Linked DNA regions of Homo sapiens. The protein of the gene in region 3 interacts with the protein of the main gene of each other region in a biochemical or structural test. Each region holds a gene or a part of one and is shown on either strand. Other genes may lie near its edges. The genes, in order: APBA2, GRIP2, TMEM178B, IL16, PDZRN3, CASK and MAST2.

The links.
Region 1: the proteins of TMEM178B (region 3) and APBA2 interact in a test that uses a peptide from one of them, tested with the Homo sapiens proteins (one large-scale study listed by IntAct).
Region 2: the proteins of TMEM178B (region 3) and GRIP2 interact in a test that uses a peptide from one of them, tested with the Homo sapiens proteins (one large-scale study listed by IntAct).
Region 4: the proteins of TMEM178B (region 3) and IL16 interact in a test that uses a peptide from one of them, tested with the Homo sapiens proteins (one large-scale study listed by IntAct).
Region 5: the proteins of TMEM178B (region 3) and PDZRN3 interact in a test that uses a peptide from one of them, tested with the Homo sapiens proteins (one large-scale study listed by IntAct).
Region 6: the proteins of TMEM178B (region 3) and CASK interact in a test that uses a peptide from one of them, tested with the Homo sapiens proteins (one large-scale study listed by IntAct).
Region 7: the proteins of TMEM178B (region 3) and MAST2 interact in a test that uses a peptide from one of them, tested with the Homo sapiens proteins (one large-scale study listed by IntAct).

Annotation. Positions count from the first base shown.
Region 1 is NC_000015.10:28,888,974-28,892,473, forward strand, and holds part of APBA2 (amyloid-beta A4 precursor protein-binding family A member 2), read left to right. Parts: intron 1-3,500. UniProt on the Homo sapiens protein: Putative function in synaptic vesicle exocytosis by binding to STXBP1, an essential component of the synaptic vesicle exocytotic machinery. May modulate processing of the amyloid-beta precursor protein (APP) and hence formation of APP-beta.
Region 2 is NC_000003.12:14,537,543-14,541,628, reverse strand, and holds the start of GRIP2 (glutamate receptor-interacting protein 2), read left to right. Parts: upstream 1-1,286; 5' UTR 1,287-1,320; coding exon 1,321-1,360; intron 1,361-4,086.
Region 3 is NC_000007.14:141,077,064-141,080,563, reverse strand, and holds part of TMEM178B (transmembrane protein 178B precursor), read right to left. Parts: intron 1-3,500.
Region 4 is NC_000015.10:81,203,379-81,206,878, reverse strand, and holds part of IL16 (pro-interleukin-16), read right to left. Parts: intron 1-3,500. UniProt on the Homo sapiens protein: Interleukin-16 stimulates a migratory response in CD4+ lymphocytes, monocytes, and eosinophils. Primes CD4+ T-cells for IL-2 and IL-15 responsiveness. Also induces T-lymphocyte expression of interleukin 2 receptor. Ligand for CD4.
Region 5 is NC_000003.12:73,397,942-73,401,441, reverse strand, and holds part of PDZRN3 (E3 ubiquitin-protein ligase PDZRN3), read left to right. Parts: intron 1-432; coding exon 433-520; intron 521-3,500. UniProt on the Homo sapiens protein: E3 ubiquitin-protein ligase. Plays an important role in regulating the surface level of MUSK on myotubes. Mediates the ubiquitination of MUSK, promoting its endocytosis and lysosomal degradation. Might contribute to terminal myogenic differentiation.
Region 6 is NC_000023.11:41,532,055-41,535,554, reverse strand, and holds part of CASK (peripheral plasma membrane protein CASK), read left to right. Parts: intron 1-581; coding exon 582-662; intron 663-768; coding exon 769-849; intron 850-3,500. UniProt on the Homo sapiens protein: Multidomain scaffolding Mg(2+)-independent protein kinase that catalyzes the phosphotransfer from ATP to proteins such as NRXN1, and plays a role in synaptic transmembrane protein anchoring and ion channel trafficking.
Region 7 is NC_000001.11:46,020,112-46,023,611, forward strand, and holds part of MAST2 (microtubule-associated serine/threonine-protein kinase 2), read left to right. Parts: intron 1-1,838; coding exon 1,839-1,971; intron 1,972-2,798; coding exon 2,799-2,860; intron 2,861-3,121; coding exon 3,122-3,207; intron 3,208-3,500. UniProt on the Homo sapiens protein: Appears to link the dystrophin/utrophin network with microtubule filaments via the syntrophins. Phosphorylation of DMD or UTRN may modulate their affinities for associated proteins. Functions in a multi-protein complex in spermatid maturation.

The DNA.
Region 1 (3,500 bases), on a different chromosome or scaffold from region 3:
TGAGAGGGTTGCTCACCAGGAGGCAGCCTGTGTGCCCAGCGGGGGCTGGGGGTGCTCTTTGTTCCCTTGGGTGGTGGTTGGCCCGAGTGCCCACAGGGAGGCTTCTCTGGCTCCTTCGTTTCCCAGAGTTCCTCCCCAACCCCCTGCCGCCCACCGCCTGGGTTGGGTCCAGCTCGTGTCTCAGAGCAGCCTGCTGGCACAGGCTGAGTCAGCTGTCGTGGGCACCGTCTTTTCTCGCCTCCCCTGAAGCCAATCTTCCCCTCTCTCCCTGTCCAGACACACAAGGGAGCCCTGGGAGGTAGGTGACCTCAAGATCATGCAGCCAGGCTCACTCTGTGGAACCCTACGTACTGGTGGGGTGCCACTGCTGTGTGCATTGTGATTTCTGTGCTGGCTGTGAGGTTTCCCAGGTTGGGGGCTGTGGGGTACTCCTGACTCTGCAAGTTGGCCCAGGCCAGGTGTGTCACCATTGCCCAGGCCTTCAGTGGCTTTCCAGTGCTCCCTCCACATCCACGTTACTCGGCTGGATTTTCTCAAGTTCCCCCACTTGCTCCCAAGAATGGCCCCTCCAGGCTGCCCTGGCTCCAGGCAGACAGGCTTACTGCCCAGATCTGCCCTGGGTTGTCCCCACCCCATCCCCACCTGTCATCTTGGCGCATGTCCATCCTGGAGATCCCAACTGAATGTGGGCTCTTTCCCTCTTATTCCTTGGTCCTCAGATTTGTCAGGCCACTCTTGCCTCAGGGCCTTTGCACCTGCTGTTCCCACCCCCTTGGCATGAGCCACCCCCAGATGCTCACATGGCTGGCCCCTCACTTATTGCCCACTCCCTGAAAGCCCTACATAAATTGGCTTTGTTAACCTTGCTTTGTGTTTCTCTTGTTAACCTTGCTTTGTGTTTCTCCTTAGTACTCACCATTCAGTGTGTTATTTATTTACTTGTTTGTTTATTGTCAGTCTCTTACCACTCAATTGTAAAAGACTTTGTTCACCTCTGGATCCCCAGTAGCTAGAAAAGTGCCTGGCACACAGCAGAGCCTTAGCGCTGTTGTTGGATGAGTGAGTGAACGAAACACGGGAGCAGTAGTCTCCTTGCAGCACATGTCCTGCTCCCTGTGCCTCCTTTTCCCGCGTCCCAGAGCTGGAACCTAGCTGTGTTCACATTTGGATCCTCCTGGCATGTAGCACAGACCCTCACTCAGTGGGCAGTCAGGAAAGAGCTGTAGAATTGTACAGTGCAACGTCAGTTTCACATAGGCCAGAGGAGAATGTGTTTGGGAAGGTAAGCAGCCCAAAGAGTGAGCTTTCTGATTCTGCACTAAGATTCCTTTTTGGATTTTCAGTTGTTTGGGTTCTCTGCACCCAGGCGGTCCCTGCTGCCAAAGTCAGCTCTGTGTCTCCCTGCAGTCACCTCGGATGTGGATGCACTTTGGAAGGAGGCACCCCCACGCCCAGATTCCCTTCCCACTCCATCTGGATCTTTCCAAACTTGTCTTGTATGTAATGTCAGACTCTGTCCCAGGGCTCCCAGCCACTCTGCTTTACCTTCCAGAAGCCTCCGCCTGCCTGACTGTCTCTTGCCTGTGTCCTGGCCTAGTTGGAGGAGATGCTTTAGTTTTATGAGAAAGGGACTGGGAGGTTGGAAAAGAGGATGGGATTTGGAGTAACAGGAGCTCAGTTCCAGCCTGGCCCTGCCACTAATCCCTGGGGCCCAGGGCCAGTCACCTGGCTTGAGAGTCTTTCTCAGCATCTGCAATACACGCACGAGGCCTCTTGCCTGCGGTTGTTTTGAGGCACAAATGAGATGCAATATTTAACTGATGCAAGATATTTTATGACAGCAAGTCATTTGGTGTGGCCACGTAGCCTTGGGCCTGTGTGGCTTCTCTTACTGTCCTGAGAGTTTTAAGGGTCAGGTTTGTGAGTTACAGCTACGGCCTAGTGAGAGAATGCAGAGGAGGCACGTCATAAACTCTAAGGGGCTGTTTTAATATAAGGTGCTATGTCTGTTGTTTTGTGTTTCAAGGATCAAAGTTAAGAGAAAAAAAATATGTGGTTGAACTTCCTGCATTGAGTGACTGAAAATATTTTCATCTCTAGTTTTCTGGAAACGGAAACACTCCAACATTTGAAGATGGTTTTGATGGCGAAACCACTGGAATGAAATGCACATCATTGGGCAATTCTGTGTGTTGAGTTTCATCCTTCTTTGTTTGTCATTTTAAATAATTTCCCGACAAATCTGGAAGGCACGTCTTGTCTTAACTTTGCAACAAGGAGGCTGGGGACAGGTAGCTGAGCTGTGGGTTGCCTAAGAACACTCTGCTGTGACGGGGCAGTGCTGGCCTTTGAGCCTGAGCTGGAGAGAGTGTGAGGCCCATGTTTTCTCCCTGTCTCCTGCTGGGGCCCATTTTGTATCAGATTTGTTTTTCACGGGGTGGGCATGACTAGGACTCGTGACCACTGGTGGGCAAGTACAGAGGCTAATTTTCAACACGTGCCGAGAGACTGATGGCTGGCATCAGAGAGTCATGGAAATGCCACAGATGACATGGGCCCTTCACAGGGATGGGGAGAGGGTCTGGGAGCTTGCCCTCCAGGAAGGTGGCTGACATGGTTGGTGGGACATGAAGGTGTTTTCCGTTTTGCACTTGAAGCCAACATGGATTCTTAGCACTTGTTGTCCCTAGAATCAACTGCGCAGAGAGATGCTTGGTTCTGAAACTCTCAGGCAAGGACAGTTCTGAGGAAACTCTCATTAGTAAATAGTGAGTCGGAGAACACTATTGACATTTGGCATTTTCAGTTGAGATATATGTGTACAGTCATGCGTCACATGACAGTGTTTTGGGGAATGATAGCATATATGACAGAGGTCCCATAAGATTATTATGGAGCTGAAAAATTCCTATTGCTTAGTGACATTGTCGTAAAGTTGTAGTGCAGTTACTTTATTTTTTAAAAAAATTTAATGTAGCCTAAGTGTACAATATTTATAAAGTCTACGCTAGTGTACAGATGGACTCACCCAGAGAAATTTCCAGTCTTGCAAGCTCCATTCATGGTTAGTGTCCTAGATGGGGTACTGTGTTATATATAATATATATATATGTTTTTTTGAGACGGAGTCTCGCCCTGTCACCCAGGCTGGAGTGCAGTGGCTCAATCTCAGCTCACGGCAAGCTCTGCCTCACGGGTTCATGCCATTCTCCTGCCTCAGCCTACCGAGTAGCTGGGACTACAGGCACCTGCCACCACGCCTGGTTAATTTTTTTGGATTTTTAGTAGAGACGGGGTTTCACTGTGTTAGCCAAGATGGTCTCGACCTCCTGACCTCATGATCCGCCCACCTCGGCCTCCCAAGGTGCTGGGATTACAGGCGTGAGCCACCACGCCTGGCCCATGTTTTATCTTTTATACCATATTTTTACTGTGCCTTTTCTATGTTTAGATAGATACTTGTGTTACAGTTGCCCACAGTATTCAGCGTGGTAACATGC
Region 2 (4,086 bases), on a different chromosome or scaffold from region 3:
AAGCACAAGTAGCCCTGCCCCAGATTTAGAACCTGGATTATTCTAAAGGTGCCACTAGCGTTGGGCTGGCAGGAGCCAGTGTGGGGCGGCCCAGGAATTGTGGCTAAATTCCATGCTGGGGTCACTGTTCTGGAGGGAACCCACAAGAAACCTCGGGTCCCTAACTACCGGGCAGCCCTCTCCCACTAGCTGCAGGGCACATGGAAGAAATATGAGGCTCGTGTGTTCCCACGCGGTCAGGAACTCCATGGGAGCCAGGCCTTGTCTGTCTGGTTCTCTGTTGCCAGACGCACTGTGCAGTTGTACAGGTTGTTGACATCCACCATTCAGTGCCCTGTCACCATCACCCCACCCTTCTTGGTGTCTGACCCTCAGTTGGTGCCAGCACACACTGGTGGGATGGAGGGCAGGGGAAATTGGGTGCAGCCTGCCACCCCTTCTCACAGACAGGTAGAGGAGGAGCCTCAGGTGTCCATTAAGATCAGCCTGGTCAGTCCTGAGCCAATGTGGAGGAATCCCAGGAGTGTGCAAGGCTAAGGCCCAGCTGGGTCTGGGACGGGGCAGAGCCTGCCAGGTGTGGCTGGAGCCTGTGACCAACTGGCCCTGCCTATCAAGCCCAGAGGCGGGCAGATCCTCCACCCAGCTCACTTGGTCTTCACAAAAAGCTGGGTGGCCACTCCACGTGGCAGGCTGCCGGGTTCATCTTTCCTAAGTCCCATTTTACCGAGGGAAAACTGATACCTAGGAGAGGTAGTTGGAACATTGGTGGGAGGGCCCTGGAGGGTCTCCAAGCTCAAGGGTTTCTAAGCTGAGACCTACAGAGACGCCCTGGCATTGTTCATGCAGTCAAAGAGTCTGTGCTTCATCTAGCTTATGTCCTGGGGTTCTGTGCAAATTCTCTTGGAATCTGCCGTTTAGAAAAAAAAAAAGTTTGGAAAGCACTGTTCCCTGTCTCCAGATGAAAAAACTGATGCCTAGTGAGGGAAGAGTCGTTTGCCAAAGTCCCAGGGCAAGTTAGAAGCAGGCTCTCTCTCTGCCTGAGAGCCCTGGGGGAAGCCCCAGGCATGCCACCTTCAAAGACCCCCTGTCCAGACCCAGGCTGCAGGGGTGGGGCATGTTGGACCCTGTCCTGGAGCCAGCCTTGACAATAGCCATGTCCCCTTTAAGCAGAGAGCCGCCCGCTGCAGTGGGTGGACTCGGTGCCCAGCCAGTGGGAGCTGTGAGCTTCCCTCCCACAGCCCCTCCCTGGGGAGGGGAGGGAGGGCCAAGCAGCGTGGCTCCCGAGGGAGTTGGTGGGCAGCAGGGGAGACAATAGCGAACATGCTGTGTGGGCTCAGCCGGGAGACCCCTGGAGAGGCGGGTACGTAATGGGGGGTCTGTGGGCAGAGTGATGGGGCTGAACACATAGATCCCTCTGGAGCTGCTGCCCAGAGAGAGGGGACTGGATGGCTGAGACCTGGGACTGCCACTCCCTGGAGACCCAGGGCTTGGGGAGGGTGGGGCAGGACACTTGCTGGGGCTGTCTGTCTGACCCTGGCCACTGTCCTGTAGCAGGATGGCTGAGCCTCCCCCAGGGCTGTCCAGCACAGGCAGGCAGAACAGGCGGGTCTGGAGGTTCCGAGGGCAGTGCTCAGCCTTGTAGGGGGAAGGCTGGTCCTATCTGGGTGTGAGCGAAGCCTTTTGCCCAATCTCAGGATCTGCACAGCTGCCTGGTGGGAGTGAGTGTCCGACCCAGAGGGGTGAGAGCCCAAGGCCCATGGGCAAGGTGGTGGTGAGGAGTTCCTGTGCTGGCACAGCTGGGCAGGAGACTGGTTCTCGGCAGGAGGAGAAACTCTGGTTTGGGGGTCTGACTGGTGAGCCCCTGGGGCTCTGGGAATGTGTGGGATGGGGGATCACAGCTGCCACATTCCTGGGTGTGCTGAGGCTGGGACCCAGGGGAGGGGCAGACACGATTGTTCCATCTGTCTCTCCAGCCTCAGCCTGGGCTCACCCTATTCCTCCAAAGAGGGAGCTTGGGGCCTGGACCAGAACATACTGCATTCACTGCCCTGGGGTTGCCTCACTGGTTTCTTCCCACGCTCTTGACATATCTTTGCACCACAGCTCCAAGGGCAAGGACTGTGGTCCCAGTGGACAGAGGAGGAAACCAAGGCTCAGGGAGGGCAGTGGCCGAGCTGGGATTGACACCCCGATGACTTTTACTGCAGAGCCCCCAGCCCTGCTTCTGAGGGCCCAGTGGACTTTGATTCCCACCTCCCTTCCCATGGCAAGGAGCAGAGCCAGGTCACCTCTGGACCCAGCCTTAGCGACCCAGGAAAAATAACACTCATAATCATAATAGCTGGCTGTTGTCGAGAGCTTCCTCTGGGCCAGGCTCTTTTCTAAGCTTTCTGTGCATTTTCTCATTTAATCCTCATAACTACACTGCCACTTGGGTACTGTTATTCTCTCCATTTTGCAGTTGGGGAAACTGAGGCAGAGAGCTGCTAAGTGACTTGTTCAGGGTTATATAGCCAGAAGTGACAAAGCTGGGATTTGACCCGATGGGCCCACCCATCCTTGGCAACTGCACTGTAAATGGAGGCTCTGCCTTCTTGGCCTGGACACATCTGTTCTTTCAACCCAAGGCCCAGGTGAGTGGGGTCACCTTGGTCTGCTGTGGTCAGGGCCACAAAGGCAGCAGTGCCCTGGAGACCTTACCTGGGGCACTGCCAGGGAGGTGTCTCCCCCTCCTCATGGGCCTGTGACCTCCACCTCGGCCCAGGGTCAGCATCAACTGCCTGGGCCTTTGCCCAGTCTCCTCCCTGGCCTGGCCTCCACCCCTTTGCTGCCATGGGAGGAAGCTTGCCAAAACACAAATCTGCTCAGCTCCTAAGCCTTGCATTCAAGGCCCTTCCTGACCTCTCTGACATTTTCTCTCTCTGATGACTTACTTGACCTCTACCCTCACCACTGTAGCCTCCACCCTAGGTCTCCTCCCCAGGTCACAGAACCTCATGATCACACTTGCTTCAGTTTGCATCAGCACCAAGGCTCTTCTTCCAAAAAGTGTAAAGATGGAGCTTCAGGCACAGTGGGATCCAGATGCTCAATTAACATCATTAGGACTCTGGGTCTCTTCGTAGCTTGCTCTGCTTCACTTTAGTGAGCTTCATTTCCAGGCAGACTCTCTCCTCTCCTTGAGAGTTCCTGGCACCTTCAAACTTAAGGTCAACCAGCTCAGTCATCCCTAAGGAAAGAGAGCCTATTTCCAGTAGTTCCAGCAAATGCCCCAGAAACGGCTCTCATTGGTCCAACTTGTATCACATGCCCACCCCTGATGGATCGCTGAGCCTCTGATTGGCCAGGCCTGGTCATGTGACCTCCCCTGTTGCTGGTAAGGACAGCCATATACCTCCACATTTGGCACAGAAGACTGCAGCCCTGAGAAGTCAGCCCACTGGCAGTGTGCGTCAGTGAGTGCCCCGATTGGAGCTGGGCTCTGTGGACCAGGCAGCCCTATGCCCTTTCTCTGCTCCTGATGGACTCTGGGTGGGTCCCTTCTCAGGCCCCACACCCTGGGCATGTCGTCTCACTCCAGGGAGTCTTGCTTTCCTGTCACTAACCCCAGAGTTCTGGCAGGAAGGGACTGTGACCTATCTCCATTGGCCCAGGCTGGGGCACACAGTAGGCCTGAACACAGATTTTGGCAGGAAGTCCCTCTCCATGTTCACTCTCCTGCCTTGAGGACGGGAGGCCTGCTCTGACTCCGCAGCCACAAAGACATCTTTGTTCCAGGCCTGCTAGGTCTGAGCAGGCACTTGCTGCCATGCTGGGGGCAGGGAAGTCTCAGTGGGTGTGGGTGTACATGTGTGAAGGTCCCCCTGCTGTGCCCTGGGCTACCCACTCCTCCGAGGGGCCCTCACCAGGCCTACCCCTTGGCTCTGAGACTCCTCAGGCAGGCCTGGCCTCCTACTCCACAGCAGGGGCTGTGGCCATGGGGGATCCTTCGCCTGAGTTTGCGTCCTGGCTCTGTCTCTTCCTAGTCTCTGACCTTGAGAAACTCATTCCACCTCTTTGATTCTCATTCTCCTAATCTGTAAATGG
Region 3 (3,500 bases):
ACTGCAACCTCCGCTTCCTGGATTCAAGCCATTCTCCTGCCTCAGCCTCTCGAGTAGCTGGGATTACAGGCATGCGCCACCACACCCAGCTAATTTTTGTATTTTCTGTAGACACAGGGTTTCAACCATGTTGGCCAGGATGGTCTCAATCTCTTGACCTCGTAATCCGCCCTCCTCAGCCTCCCAAAATTCTGGGATTACAGGCGTGCGCCACCGTGCCCAGCCGTGGAGTATTTATTTATTGTCCGTCTCTCCCCTCTGGAATGTAAGCTTCTCCATTTGGTCCAACACTGTACCTGATGCACAGCCCAAAGGCCCTCAATAAATACTTGTTGAATGAATGAATGTGTCCTTCATGTCTATAATTTCAGCATCTACCACAGCAAGCGAAGTAAATAAGCAAAAGTTATATGACAAAATGTGTATGCACTTTGGTCAGTGAGCTTCAAAACAGGGTGTGTGAGCCACTCTCATTACTTCAATTTAGAATTGAGATTCCAAGAGTATTATTTCCTTTTTATTCTCAATTTGTGGAATCAATATCCCAGTTTCTTCTCCACCTCACTCCTGCCCCGATAGATTCTAAGATGATGGTAGAGTGTGGTGGGTGAGTTCCCACATCCAGAGCCAGAATTCAAATTCTGACACCTTTGTTTCCTAACTAACTGTGAGAATTCACAAGTTATCTGACCTTTCTGTGCCTCAGTTCCCTCAAATTTAGGATGAGAATTTAAAATAATACTTATACTTCCTAGGGTTATTATGAACAATAAATTAGCTAATACATATAAAACTTTTAGGAGAGACCTGTCATCAAGATTGGCTATAATTATCATTAATCTCTTTCCCACCCCACCAACTTTGCAAGTGATGTTTAATGGAGATGGAGAGGGCAGGAGGGAAGAAGGGAGAAGCTTGTGAGAATTCTGTGAGTTGATGATAGAAAATTAAAATATAAATTTACTATAATTGACCATGAACTAAAGCCTTCTGCCCAATATATTCAAGTAGCAGTTTCTTAAAGTGTAGAATGATATACTTAAATTTAAACCCAAGTTATCATGGAATTATACTCATCTGAAACAAAGTTATGTGCTTGGTTCTTTTAGAGGCTATAGGCTCTGCGTGGCGCTGTCCAACAGAATTTTCTCCGATGGTGGGAATGTTCACTGTAATCTGCACTGTCCCATACAATAGCCAGTAGGCACATACGGCTACTGAACATTTGAAATGTGGCCAATACAACTACGGAAATAATTTTTGTTTGTTTGTTTTTTGAGACAGAGTCTCGCTCTGTCACCCAGGCTGGAGTGCAACGGCATGATACCAGATCACCGCAACCTCTACCTCCTAGGTTCAAGCGATTCTCCTGCCTCAGCCTCCTGAGTAGCTGGCATTACAGACACACACCACCATGCCCAGCTAATTTTTGTATTTTTACTAGAGATGGGTTTTCACCATGTTGGCGAGGCTGGTCTCGAACTCCTGAACTCAAGTGATTCACCTGCCTCGGCCTCCCAAAGTGCTGGGATTACAGGCGTGAACCACTGTGCCCAGCCTATTTTATTTAACTTTGGTTATTGTTAACTTGAACAGCCACATGTGGGTTGTGGCTCCCCAACTGGGCAGCATAGCTGTAGGGGATTTGATATACGAGCTCCCTGACTTGGTCCATGGCTGCTCTCCAGCTCCTGGTCTGCTCCTTCTCCTTGCCCCAGAAATCAACACTCACAAGGCCAAACTGCTGTTCCACACCTCTATGGCTGTGCATATGCTGGCCCATTGCCTGAAATATCCTTCCTCCACATCCACCTCCAAACCTTATCAAACATCTTGTTCAGATTTCATTTCCTCAGGACAACTTTCCCTAACCTCCTCCTGCCTACCTCCCGCTACTGCCGACACAATCCACCATCACTTTCTCTGTGTTCCTCTGCATCTGTTTCTGTTGCTGCTCTCATCATCCTGTAGTTGTAACCTATTTTCTCTGACACTAACAGACTATGCAAATTCTGAGGACCAGATCTTATGCATTTCTTCATCCTAGCGATGTGTGCCCATAACACAATACATGTGTAGTAAATATTTGCTGATCCCATTATTAATTTTTAAATATGTGAATGTTTTCTTAAAATTACTTTTGGAGTATTGACAACCACTCTGTGATTATGGGAACTCTTTAAGTCAAAGTCTATTATAAGGCCAATTTTCAAATAATAAAAAGTTCTTAGAGTATCAGTTGAAGTTCTACTTATTTCAAACTATATCAATATAATATTTTAGTACAAACCAAATAATATAATTTTCCCCTTAGAGTTCCCTAGAACAAAATCCTACCTATAACTCCTCCTCCTAAGGGTCTGGAAGTCTCTTGGATTTCAGAAACTGATCTTGTCACTGATCTGTCCCCAGTGCCTGCAGTCACTTACTAGGGAGACATGGATGAGATTTAAAAGCAAGAAGACAAAAGGACCTGATTTAAGACTTGTCATGGATGCCAACAAATGGGAATTCAGGGTAATCTACCCTTGCTGTACCCTATATCCAATCTTACCCCCAAGAAGGAAATAATTAAAACCTTATCCATCATAAAAAATAATGTCCACAAGTGATATGTGTCTGCTTAGTGACATGTTATCCAAAACAGAATTGTCTGTTTTCCTTATTCTTTGGCAAAGCTCAAGAAATCGTCCCTTCATAGATTATGTAGCATTTGTTGCAATATTGACCTGGCCTGACAGCCACACTGTTTCATATTTTCCCATCACGATTTTCTAATTTTTTACTTAAATTCTCACACAAGTGTTTCTATAATTAGAATAAGCTTGGATGGATACATTTCTGTGAACCTAATTTGTATGAAATATTTCCCAAATACCAAGCATCTGGTGAATGTATTTAACAAATGATGGTCTTTCCTGACCTCTAGGAACTTACAGTTTAATAATGCAAACAAATGAATACACAGTGATGAGAAATGCATACGTGTGGGTACAGCATGGCAGAAGGTCCTGGAGGGGAATGGATTTCAGAATGAATATGAATCCAGAGGACTTTACCTTCAAATCAGACATAGATTTGATGTTCGTTTTCTTATTAATTATGTGGTTTTATGTTGAAATGCACAAATAGCACTTTCTAATGTAATGAACATCGATTTAACAAATAACTAAGTTCTTTAGATCATTTAGATAAGTCTCTAATTTTCCTATATATTAACGGATTTTAAAGTCTTTTCTCTGGTTTTCTTTTTCCCTTGCCCATTACATATCTTCCAGAATTTTAATCAAAGTAGATATTTCAAAGAAGACAGAGGTCTGAGATCTCTTTTGCGGTTTCTAATGAATAATGTGAGATAAACATCTTTTTCTAAAATGTCTCATTTAAATATAGGGATATCAGTTTCTCTTTTTAACTTCCTTATAAAATCTGCCCATCTAAGAGGAACACTAAGTGTAAAAATTGTGTTCTATATGTTATTGGAATTGCTTGTGAATTCT
Region 4 (3,500 bases), on a different chromosome or scaffold from region 3:
CATCATCATCATTATTTAAAGCCCGAAATTCTCTTCTGAACATCCTTTTGGCCCCAACCCAGGAATTGTGAAATACAATATTCTAAATGTTATTTTAGGAATGGTCTGTAATTGCAGTTTTGATTCCCAATTTAAACTCAGTTCTTCAGGAGATTTTTGGTGTTATTGTTAATTTCATGTAGTTAAATTTCCCAGATTTAGTGTTGCTGTTCTTACAATTTTTTATTAGAAAATTCCAGTTTAATTGCATCGTGCCACAGGATGTGTCTTATTTTTATTTGTTGGAATTCATTGAGGTTTACTCTGTTAGCCAGTATGTGATGTGACTAAGTGTTTTATGTGTTCTGTGCACATTTGAAAAGAATGATTATTCTGTGTTTTGGGTTTCAAATATGTATATATTCAAATGTGATATTAAAATGCAGTCATTATGGTCAACAAAGAACTGCTTATATGATAGTGGTCCCATAAGATTAAAATACCATATTTTTACTGTACCTTTTGTTACAAATGTTCAGATACACAAATACTTACCACTGTGTTACAAATGCCTACAATAACATGCTGTACAGGCTTGTAGACTAGAAGCAGTAGGCAATACCATATAGCCTTGGGGTGTAGTAGGCTATACCATCCAGGTCTGTTTAAGTACCCTATGTAACGTTTGTACGACGATGAAATTTCTCAGAACTTATCTTCATTGCCATGCAACACATGACTGCATATATATGTAAGCACATATTCAATTTTGTAAGTCATAGAATTCAAGCTCTTTATGTACATTTTGTCTAATTAATCTGAAAAAATCTTAACAGTGGTGTACATTGAAATCTAACACCATATTTGGAGTATATCTCTAATTTTTTTGTTTTACATATTTCGACGCTTTATGTTTACCCAAAGTTTTCTGATTTTCATGCCTTCATTGAGTGCTCTTTTTATCATTTTGTAAAAAAGTAATTCTTGATCTATTTAATAGTTGCCTCAATTTTTATTTTGTCTGACAAAATTAACACTGACACCTCACTTTCTTTTAATTTGCATTTGCACAGTATTTTCCTATCCCTTTATTTGTAACTTTATGTGATTAAGTTTTAAATGTGTCTCTTGAAAGTGGGATATAATTGGACTGGGGAGAGAGAGTTTGTTTCTTTAGGCTTTTTTTGTTTCCCTTTTTTAAACTGAATCTGAGAGTCTCTTTTATTTTAATGTGTAATCTTACTACAGAGCTTAATTGATTCATCTTTCTTCTCACATGTTTTGTTTTTCTTATTATGGCTCCTTAATTATTCCTTTTCTTGTTTTCCAGTCAACTTATTCACACTTTCTTTTCCTTCTTAATGAATCATAGGTTTCATTCATTTTATTTGATATTACTGGTGGCTATGTAAAGAATTTTTCAAAGCAATATTTGAGCCTGTATTTTTCCTCTTCATTGATTGCAAGAATGGCACTATCTGATGCCTCTTCCCTATGCAAGAGGTGAGGTGCTAGGTGCTCTCAGAGTGATTGACTATTTAGGGGACATCATAGATCATTATATATCATCTCTCAAGATTTTTTTTTTTTTTTTGAGATGGAGTCTTGCTCTGTCATCTAGGCTGGAGTGCAATGGTGTGATCTCGGCTCACTGCAACCTCCGCCTCCCAGATTCAAGCCATTCTCCTGCCTTAGCCTCCCGAGTAGCTGGGATGACAGGCACGTGCCACTATGCCCGGCTAATTTTTGTATTTTTAGTACAGATGGGATTTCACCAGGTTGGCCAACTGGTCTTGAACTCCTGGCCTCAAATGATCCACCCACCTTGGCCCCCCAAGGTGCTGGGGTTACAAGTGTGAGCCACTGCGCCCGGTCTAAGATTTATCATTTGCTTTATTTCAAAATCGTATTAACAACCGTCACTGAGACTTAAAATTTGTCTTGTTTTGTGGCCTGTCAATTTTTTTATCATCATGGTCTGCTCCCCCAACCCCTCCAGGCTCTTGCTCTGCCCTATCTTGAACTCCATTCTATTACAGCACTAAACCTTTTCAGTCCCCTGAATGTCCCATGCGCTCTCTAGCTTCCAGGACTTGGTGCAGGCTGCTTCCAATGCCTTCCAAATTTTCTTTTTTTTCTTTTTTTTTTTTAATTTTGTTATTATTATACTTTAAGTTTTAGGGTACATGTGCACAACGTGCAGGTTTGTTACATACGTATACATGTGCCATGTTGATGTGCTGCACCCATTAACTCGTCATTTAGCATTCAATAAACGTAATCCAGCATATAAACAGAACCAAAGACAAAAACCACATGATTATCTCAATAGATGCAGAAAAGGCCTTTGAGAAAATTCAACAACCCATCATGCTAAAAACTCTCAATAAATTAGGTATTGATGGGACGTATTTCAAAATAATAAGAGCTATCTATGACAAACCCACAGCCAATATCATACTGAATGGGCAAAAACTGGAAGCATTCCCTTTGAAAACGGGCACAAGACAGGGAAGCCCTCTCTCACCACTCCTATTCAACATAGTGTTGGAAGTTCTGGCCAGGGCAATTAGGCAGGAGAAGGAAATAAAGGGTATTCAATTAGGAAAAGAGGAAGTCAAATTGTCCCTGTTTGCAGATGACATGATTGTATATCTAGAAAACCCCATCGTCTCAGCCCAAAATCTCCTTAAGCTGATAGGCAACTTCAGCAAAGTCTCAGGATACAAAATCAATGTATAAAAATCACAAGCTTTCTTATACACCAATAACAGACAAACAGAGAGCCAAATCATGAGTGAACTCCCATTCACAATTGCTTCAAAGAGAATAAAATACCTAGGAATCCAACTTACAAGGGATGTGAAGGACCTCTTCAAGGAGAACTACAAACCACTGCTCAAGGAAATAAAAGAGGATACAAACAAATGGAAGAACATTCCACGCTCATGGGTAGGAAGAATCAATATCGTGAAAATGGCCATACTGCCCAAGGTAATTTATAGATTCAATGTCATCCCCATCAAGCCACCAATGACTTTCTTCACAGAATTGGAAAAAACTACTTTAAAGTTCATATGGAACCAAAAAAGAGCCCGCATTGCCAAGTCAATCCTAAGCCAAAAGAACAAAGTTGGAGGCATCACGCTACCTGACTTCAAACTATACTACAAGGCTGCAGTAACCAAAACAGCATGGTACTGGTACCAAAACAGAGATATAGACCAATGGAATAGAACAGAGCCCTCAGAAATAATGCCGCATATCTACAACTATCTGATCTTTGACAAACCTGACAAAAACAAGCAATGGGGAAAGGATTCCCTATTTAATAAATGGTGCTGGGAAAACTGGCTAGCCATATGTAGAAAGCTGAAACTGGATCCCTTCCTTACACCTTATACAAAAATTAATTCAAGATGGATTAAAGACTTAAATGTTAGACCTAAAACCATAAAAACCCTGGAAGAAAACCTAGGCAATACCATTCAGGACATAGGCATGGGCAAGGACTTCATGTC
Region 5 (3,500 bases), on a different chromosome or scaffold from region 3:
GATCTCAGAGGCCAGCACATATCTTAGACTGTTGCCTGGGCTCGAGCCTAGTTCTCTGCAGAGATAAAATCTAACAATGAAGCAATAAGCAGTAAAATATTGTCCTGTTTCCTGCGTAGAGATGGAGTTAGAAATCAGTCACGCTGAATCACGTGACTGGCAGGCTCCGGGATGGGCTCTGCAAACAACAAAGCCCATCAGGCTTGCACTTTGCATCTTAAGTCCTTCAGGAGGAAATGTACTAAAGGCAAATGGTAAAATTAGGATGATGGAGGTCCTGACCGTGCTGAGAGCCCCATCCAGAGGGAAGTGAGTCATGAAAGGGCCCACACCCTGGGAATTGCTACTGTGCCACTGGCCTGACAATGGGTGTAAGAAAAACAGATACTGACAACGGAAGAAGGGCTGTAAAGATGTTGCATCTCTTTTCAGGCATCCCTCAGCCCATGAATACTACGATCCAAATGACTACATTGGAGACATCCATCAGGAGATGGACAGGGAGGAGCTGGAGCTGGAGGTATGAAGAACATCCTTGTCTCATTTTAGGAGTCATTATTAAGAACACAGAATGCCTAATAAGTTCTCTATAAGCATAAATTAGTTTACGGATGCCGATGGAAAGTAACAAAAGCAGAACCACTTTTACTGATGCCCTTTGAAAGGCACAACTGAGATTCTTCTTCCTTCCTTGGAAACAGAGCTTAATAATCAAGTCCCAAAAGCAGAAATGTAAACTTTTTTTAATTTGAATCACTTAAAAGTTAGGACAGTAAATCCTGTTGTCAACCTTTGAATCCACATAATCCATACATTCTTGTAACTAACATAAGCCTCCTCACCTTCCTCCCTTTTATGTCATCACCACTCTTTACTCAAAGGCAGATGGCTCAAGAGTAGGTGGATAAATTACTTGAGTGAATGCTAGCCCGCCCTAACAAAAGGGTTTGTTCACTGCTTCACTTGCTTCAAGTTTGCTAACATTGATACAGAAGAAATTAAACAAGTCTGCAACTCTTCTTAAGTGTTATTTGAGGCCACACAGGAATAAAGATTCAAGATGCTACATAATGTCAAATAGGTCTCTGTTAAGGTTTAAAATATTTAGAGGACACCAGGTTGCCAACAGAGTTCTACTTCCCATTTTCCTTTTATTAAGGGTGATAGAAAATACAGAAAACACTAACTTGTATAATATATTTATATTTTGGGGAAAACACTTTTATATTTCAATGGGGTTTCAAAAAATATAACAGCATTTTTGAAAGCTGATTTTATGGAATAAGGTAAAAAGACACCTGATGTTGACAGGTAAGCCCTTGGGTACCATCAAAAGGTCACCCAGGAAAAATCGAACATTTTATCCAATTTCATGGCTAACTGTTGTGTAATCTATGCTGTCCTACCAATACTTCTGAAGTTGAATTGTTCAGTGGCAGTAGGTTCTGTGCAAGGACAGAAGCAGTCAAATAGTAGAAAACAGCTATGTTCCTCAACTTAAAGTTACCAAGAGTTCTCATTCCAAGACAGAAGTTAAAAATCAATAATTGTGTGCAAACGATGACTTCACTGATGGTTAGCCAGATACAGTCAAATCAAAGGACTTGTTGCCAGTGGCATGACTGACTCTGTGCCAGTTTTCAGAAATTTAAAATTTTCCCTAAATGCACCTGGTCTAAACAGCAATGGCCAGTATTCTCACTATAAAAACTTGACTGTTTCTGCTTGCTGTCAGCCACTTACCAAAGCGCTTGCCATTTAACAATTGTTCCAGAAAATGTAGTTTTGTCATTTTCAAAAATCAGGATTCTGCCTCTTATTTAGTGTCCTATCACCCCAGCTTCAGGGCTGTTTGGTGAAGCAGCCGTGACTCCTTCAGGACACTTGTTCCTTAATTTGTTATGTATGTTCCTTCCAAAGGGGGTTCATAATGAAATACATTTGGGAAATGCCAGACTGAAGACAACGAAACAGATTTCTTGGAGGACTTCTGAGAATCTTGACTATCTACCTAGAATCCCCTGGGGGAGTGGGCAGAATTTCCCCCACCTCTCTGGCCAAGTACCTGTTTATATTTCCTCAGTCTACAGTTCTCTGGAACACTGTTGGAGAAACACTGCTCTCCAAACAGAGGGCTATTTCGTAATCTTTATGGGACGACACTGCTTTTTGATGATGTAATTGTGGCAAAGTAGAGTTCTTTTAAAAAGCTGTAAAGTGTTTCAGAAGCTAGAGTTATGAAGTAGTAGAGACTTTGTAGTCTTTGGTATTTAGTTAAACTTGACTTTGTAGCAGTGGGTTCTTTAGTTCTTTTTTTAGTTTCTAATACCTTTGAGAATCTGATGGAACCTACAGCCCCCCGCTCTGGAAAAATGCTCCTGTCTGTGAGAGCTTGCATATGGTTTCAGGAGATTCACTGAGCCCCCACAGTATCTGCCCAATTTGGGCCATTCTGCCTTACAGTTTTTCCTTATACCTGACTATCACCAGAACTCTTACGTGCTTTCTATTTCTCTTTAATTCGACTCAACTTATTTAAACTACGGTAATTTTATTTTAAAGGAAACACTATACCACTGCGTCAAGCAGAAAGTCAGCATCCATTGCCTTAAATAGAAAATCCCATACAATTAAATACAGTGGACACAAGCCAGTGTTATTTATTAAATCCTGGTGCTCAATAAGGGTGCCTGCTGAGGGTTGGGAGCCTGGGGCCACTACATCCTGCCTTTTCTCTAAGGAGATTAGCTAGTATTAAAGAAGTGTTAAGACTAGCCCAGACTGAGTCTTTCTCCTCAAAGCATGAAGCACCTGAGAGCATCCTGCTTTCAGCAGGAGGGAGCCACTCAGAAACTGTTCCCTAGAACCCTGTTGTTCAAAGTGTGGTAGGAGGACCAGCAGCCTGGCTGGTCAAAGTAGAGTTCTCACCTAGGAGATGTGGGAACTACAGAAACTTGGCCCCCTAGATCTTCAGAATCAGAATCTGCACTTTAACAAGGTTCCTAGGTACCTCGGTGCCCATTAAAGCCAGAGGACCCCTGACCTACAGGCCACAGACCCAGATAAAGCAGCCCAAGCTATCATTTCCTCTTGTTCTCTTGAGTCACACCAGCGAGGCTTTTGTGGTGCCTTTCATTCACTGCAGTGTCGAGATGTGCCGCCAAGTCACGAATATTGTCCACACTGTCCCTGCAGTGTAACATTATCAGGGCCTAGGAACGACTGAGCCCCTCGTAGGCATGTGACACTGTGTTCCTAAGACTGCTTCTCTCTTTTCATGAATAAAAGCAGACACAACGCAGGTGTTTAGAAAACTAGTCTGGTATTAATATTTTAAGCTAGACCTTGGATGCCATCAGACTTTATATTCGTGTTTATTTTCAATTCTGTTCATTTTATTGTCTCTTACATTAAATATACTGTTTGGCCCTAGAAATGCAAAATCACGAAGTCACCACTCTGCCTGCCCTTAAGGAGCTCACAAGCCATTAGGACCATTA
Region 6 (3,500 bases), on a different chromosome or scaffold from region 3:
GATAAGCTTGTGCAATAGTTACAGAACTTGCCTTAGAATCTAGCATGCCACCTTCATCAACTCTGTTGAAAGAAAGAACCATGAAGTTAAAGACCAGCTGTCCATGCATTTCTCATCCATCTCTAGAAATGATCTAGCTGGCCCCTCTCCTGGTTAACTTTAGTTGCATTCATGCTATATTCATGTTGGTCACTGTCTGTAGACTTTTTCTTTTTAGTATTGCTGACTTCTTAGAATTGGAAAAATATGAACAGCATGTGGTTTCAAATTAATTCATATGATTTGTTGGATACTACATGAAAAGATATGTAGTATCTTTTAGATTTGGACATTTTAATGCATGTGTTCAGCATCTTTGGATGCCCCTGGTTCTAAAGAGCATTTTCATGGGCTTAAAAATGAAAATTTCTCCCTAGATGCTATATGACTTAAATTACATGTAAGCCATATATCATAAGTTGGATTCATATTTTTAAGACATGGTTTTAATATAACTGTAGTTTTGCCAGTAAAATTATAATTTATGTACATGAAATAGTCATTCTACAAATTTACCTTTCTTCTAAATCTTTGCGTTTTAGTGTTTGATCAATTAGATCTTGTCACATATGAAGAAGTAGTAAAACTGCCAGCATTCAAGAGGAAAACACTAGTCTTATTAGGTAAGTTTGATTGTGTAAGTGAGTTGCTTATTCTCACTTTCAAAACATTTTGTGAACATTATTAAGAGTTGTCAGTTTTAACATTCTTTTTTTCTAAATGACATAGGCGCACATGGTGTTGGGAGAAGACACATAAAAAACACTCTCATCACAAAGCACCCAGACCGGTTTGCGTACCCTATTCCACGTAAGCAATGTCTCAATCTCTTTTCATTATATTTTTCCTATCACTTTTTTAACTCTATAATTTATGTATTTTTTTCTGATTACATAAGGTATAACTGTTCATTGTAGGAAATTTGTAAAATCAAAAAAAGAACAAGGAGGAAAATGAGTTAACAGTAATCCCAACCCCTCTTTCCCTATAATAAGTGCTATAAATATTTTGTTGTATACCCTTCTAGGCTTCTCTGTTGTATACCCTTCTAGGCTTGTCTTAGTACAGATATGTGTATAAAGTGTGTGTGTGTGTGTGTGTGTGTGTGTGTGTGTGTGTGTGTTTTAAATAAAATTAGTTTTATCCATTCTGTTTGTAACAATTTTTCTAACAATATGTCATACACATTACCTAGATGAATTATTCTTCAGAAAAATAAGTTTTCATAGTTGTACAGTTTCTGATATGACAATTTTTTTCCCTTAGTTAATATTTAAATTGTTGATTTCTTACCACTTTTTAAACCCAATCAATATGCTAACAGTTGTTTCTGTAAAGATTTTCAAATCTGTAAGATTTTTAATTCTCCTTATTTTCCGTATCTTATTCTTAACCTCTTGCCCTCTTCATTTTCTCAATTGTAAAATGAAGTAATTCAGGATTGCAGAGAGGATTTGAGATCATGTGTATGAAGCACTTAGCAGATGGTGGATAAGTAGAAGCTATCTACCACTATCATTTCATTATTATCATCATTATTCTAAAGTTTAAAATTTTAGGCCAGGCGCGGTGGCTCATGCCTGTAATTCCAGCACTTTGGGAGGCTGAGGTGGGCGAATCACCTGAGGTCGGGAGTTTGAGACCAGCCTGACCAACATGGAGAAACCCCGTCTCTACTAAAAATACAAAATTAGCTAGGCATAGTGGTGCATGCCTGTAATCCCAGCTACTCAGCAGGCTGAAGCAGGAGAATCAGTTGAATCCGGAGGTGGAGGTTGTGGTGAGCCGAGATCGTGCCATTGCACTCCAGCCTGGGCAACAAGAGTGAAACTCCGTCTCAAAAAAAAATAAATAAAATTTTAACCCCAGAAGCTTTCTAGCAGCTCAGGGTTGGAAGAGCTAAAGGAAAATTATTTTTTAAGAGCAACAGGAGAAAATGTGAAGATTGGCTCCATTCTATAGGGCCTTCACATGCCTTCCTGAAGCAATGTCAATACCACTTACAGTTATCTGTACACCTCAGAGAGCCAGGAGGCTTCATGAGAAAACCTTCATCCCAAAACCTTGTCTGATTTACACAAGAAAAGAAATGTATCCAATAGTGTCTCATTTGGCACTACTGGGGTTTTCTAGTAAAACACTTTGAAGTGTTCTTTTAATTCTCCTTATGTCTAGATCATGAGTACAGCAAGCTTAGCTAACATTTAGCTTCTTCTTAACCACGTAACAACTGAACTTCCATGTTATTAAATGGCCAGTTAACTAGTTTGGTTTTAAAACTTACCTTTGATGATGTCAATCATGACTAGTCTTTGAAATATTTGACCCTGTATGTGTATATAACATATATCTAACTACTGAGATGACTGAAGATAGTACAACATCAATATGTTATGTAAGTTCTTGGCTGGGCGCGGTGGCTCACACCTATAATCCCAGCACTTTGGGAGGCCGAGATGGGTGGATCACATGAGACCAGGAGTTTGAGACCAGCCTGGCCAATGTGGTGAAACCCCATCTCTACTAAAAATACAAAAGTTAGCCGGGCATGGTGGCACACACCTGTAGTCCCAGCTATTAGGGTGGCTGAGGCATGAAAATCGCTTGGAACCCGGGAGCTGGAAGTTGCAGTGAGCTGAGATCTTGCTACTGCACTCCAGCCTGGGCAACAGAGTGAGACCCTGTCTCAATAAATAAATAAATAGTAACGCCGGTTCTTCAGCTTTTGATGTGCCTAGAGAAAGGGCTTCTCTTAAAATGTCCACATTTTGATGACCACGAGCACTTTATGTTCTAACAAACAGGCTAGCAGGAAAGGGGGATTCCCCATTAGTTTAGGCTCATGTATACAGAAGAGAGTAGCATAAATTTGTTCTTTCTCAAAGAAAGAAGGAAGCAAAGAAATTGAGAGAGAGAGGGAAAAAAAGGGAAGGAAGGGAGAAAAGAAAGGGGGGTAGGGAGAGAGAATATTAAAACCAGTGTTCCTGGCTCATCTAGAAAAACATTTCCTAAAGTGTGTTTTGCAGGATACTGGTCCTATTAGTATCCACAGAACTAGAGCTTATTGGCATATACTTCAGTTACACTCACTTAGGTGAGGGGTGGGCAAGCCTTTTCTGTAAAGGACCAGATAGTACACATTTGAGGCTTTAAGGCCATACAGTCTATCACAAGCACTTAGCTCTGCTGTTGTCTCATGAAAACAACCATAGGCAATATGTAAACAAAAGCACATGGCTGTGTTCCAGTAAAACTTTGTTTACAAAAACAGACAGTAGGTGGCCAGGTGCAGTGGCTCACACCTGTAATCCCAGCACTTTGGGAGACTGAGGCGGGCAGATCACCTGAGGTCAGGAGTTTGAGACCAGTCTGGCCAACATGGTGAAACCCCGTCTCTGTTGGAAATACAAAAAATAGCTGGGCATGGTGGTACACGCCTATAATCCCAGCTGCTCAGGAGG
Region 7 (3,500 bases), on a different chromosome or scaffold from region 3:
CTACAGTGGAGTTGGGAAGCATGAGGCATGAGGACATGTAAATAGTAATTACAATACTGCAAGAAGTGTTGCAGTTGAGGTCAGTACACAGCGTAACGGGAACCTGGAAAAGGAAGTGCTTTAGTCTTCCCTGGAAGGAACATTCAGTGAATGCTCCCTGGGGGACGTGAGGCTTATTCAGCAAACTGAAGGATGAGTCTAAGTTTCCCAGATCGGGAGCATGGGAAGGAGCATTCAGTGGGGCACAGGGTGGGTTTGAAGAAGTGCTGAGGGGTAAGCCTGGAAGGTAGGCTGTGACAGGGTCATGGAGGGTGTCGGGTTCTCGGCTCTGGAGTTTTTCATTACCCTTACGGCCACTTGGAGACACCAGAAAGTTTAGGTAAGAATGTGACATGGCCGCATTTACTTTTTTCTTAAAAAATATTATTAAGGTATAATTTTCATACAATAAAATATATCCCTTTGATGGTACAGTTCATTGAGATTTAACAAATACACACTTGTAGAATCGTGGCCACAGCTGACATAGAGAATATTTCTGTCATATAAGTTCCCTTGTGCCCCTTTGAAGTCAGTCCTCTCTTCCTCCTGCTCCCAGACAATAACTTAACTGCTTTGTTTCACTAGGGATGGGTTTGCCTTTTGTACAGTTTCCTAGAAATGAAACCATGTTTCTGTGTGGTTTCTGTAGTATGTTCTGAATTCTTTCACTCAGCATGTTTGTAGAAATTCATACATGTTGTTGCATGTATCAGTAATTGGTTCCTATTTATTTCTGTGTAAATATTACATCAGATTTAGTCCTAAGAAAGATTACTTTGGCTGCAACATGGATAGTGAATTGGAAGAGAGGGCAGGATGAGCCAGGGACATCAGGGGAGAGGTACTCAAAGCAAATTCATGTGAGATGGGGTGGCCAGAACTCAGACAGTGAATGGTAGGATAATAGAGAGAAAGAGGTGGATTAGAGGGGTATTTATGAGAGAGACATTCTGACCAAATAGGAGCTAAGGAAGGATAAGAAGTTAAAAGGACTTCCAGGTCTGGCGTAGGTTATATCCAGATAGGTACAGTTCTCCAAAACAGTGAGGCCACAGGGAATGAGAACAGAGTTCAGGGCAGAGGCTATGCTGTGATAGAGCAGAGAGCCTCTCCCTCAGGAACATGAAGTCCTTGGCTAAGCAGGGGCTTGGAGTCAGACCTGGGCTGAATGCTGGTTTTCTGTTCCTTCCTACTACTGTGATTATGGACAAATCAGTGCATCCCTGAAAGCCTTGATTTCCTCAGTGAGGTCAAAGAGTTGCTAGAGGGTTTAACCCAGTGTGTGGCACTTAGTAGGCACTCAGTTATTATGTGCAGACAAGGATTGTGCTTTTCAATGGATTTCCAGCCTCTAGCACATAGGAGGTGCCCAGTAAATATTTGAAGGTATACATGCACCAGTAGGGCTTTGCCAAAGCTCTTGTGAGCCATAATTGAGTGTGTGCCAGGACAGCTGTGGACTGGGCATCTGAATACACCAGACAGTGCCACCTGGCTGATGGAAAGCATGGGACCAGATCAATAGGCTGAGCTCTCTTTAGAGTAAAACCTCTAGTTCTTACTGCCAGGAAGACAGCATATGCTTAGCATGTCCAATCTGGAGGTGACCTGTAAGACATCTTTGTCCCCATTCCTGTGATCCCTGAATCATGTTGTTTCTGAATATTCAGGGGTGGGAGTGTCCTATCACAGAGAAAGTCTTGTTCATCTCAGTCTACTATATGCTGTAAAACCAAAGATGCCAGCAGCTTTCGCTTATATCTGTCACCACTGACTATCTCTCTCCCTTGGTACAGGAGTTTGACCCTGAAGAGTTCTACCACCTTTTAGAAGCAGCTGAGGGCCACGCCAAAGAGGGACAAGGGATTAAATGTGACATTCCCCGCTACATCGTTAGCCAGCTGGGCCTCACCCGGGATCCCCTAGAAGGTGAGCATGCTGCCTAGTGGCTGCAAAGAGGCCCCACTGCTGCTGGCAAGCTCTAACAGCAGGGAAGCTGCTTGGAAAAGAGACTTAGCTTGGACATGGACACAACATGGCCCCGGGGGCCTCAGGATTTTAGGAGATACCCTGTGATCTCTGTGACAAAACAGTCTTTACTTTGGAACTGCTGTTCACATCTGCCTGATAGATCCCAACCTGGATTGCATTGGCCCGGCTGAGTTGCATTTAGAACCTCAGTTCCAAAGAGGTCAACAACAAAGGGCCACAATCACATTTGCAAAAATGGTCACCTCCTCTGCAACTTGCCTCTACTCTTGGCCACCTTACAGGTCTTCCTGTGTCTTTGGGGTAGTCCAACACAGGGCTTCAGAGGATACTGCCATTCTTCTGGGCTTCCTGCTGAACCCCTGCAGCAACCATGGGCTTCCAAGTCCCTGGTCTGTAGGTATCCTGCTCCTGCCTTCTGTGCTTCCCAGCCCCATCCAGTGAAGCAGTCTTGGCCAGCAGGATGGGAACTAGTAACCCAGTTTCAGGCCCTGTTTTCCAGGAAATGTCCCCAGTTTATAGAATTTGCCAGGCCCTGTGAATGGCAATGGACTTCTGGAAATGGGAGTAGCAGTAGGATTTGGCTTGTTTCCTGATCCAAAAGCTGGGACTACATTGGGTATAGTGCCATGGGACTGAATTCACATCCTAGGCTGATGCAAAAAGCATTAATGACTACCCTACATGCACCTGTTGTGTGATCTGAGGATACTGCTGAGATACCTGACATTGCCACGCACATTCTTCTCTTGTATCTTTGTTTCCAGAAATGGCCCAGTTGAGCAGCTGTGACAGTCCTGACACTCCAGAGACAGATGATTCTATTGAGGTAAAAACCCTGAGCTCCTACCCCATTCCTGGAGCCTGGGCCCTATGAAGCAAAGAGCTATGAATTCTCTTTAAGAGAATATCTGAGGAAGGGATGGGGGAGTTGGTGACAGCAAACACTGAGAAGTCATTCTACTCCCAGAAGAATGAGCAGGAGACTGCACTAGAGCTGACAGCTGAGAAGATGCTAGAGCCACAGCTTCTGCAAGGATATGGGCTCTGAGAAGCATGCCTGTCTCCTGCCTTTTCCCTTGTCTTCCAGGGCCATGGGGCATCTCTGCCATCTAAAAAGACACCCTCTGAAGAGGACTTCGAGACCATTAAGCTCATCAGCAATGGCGCCTATGGGTAAAGGCAGGGGTCAGGGTGTGGCCAGGACTGAAGCCGGGTCAGCCTTTGATCTCTTCCATGTGAGAGTGTATGCTGCCCAGTCCTCTGGGCAGATGCCTCGGGGTGGACCTTCTCACTCCCAGAAGCCTCCTGGGTGGGCAGGAGTTCAGATTCCTCTGACATCCGATCATTGTTCCTTTCCCAGACAAGATTCCCACGCCTCTTACTACCACGCATCCTCCATTCCCTGAGCTCTGGGGAAGCATTGAGCCGTGTCATCAGGACATGGTCTATCAAGAAGTTTAAGAGTT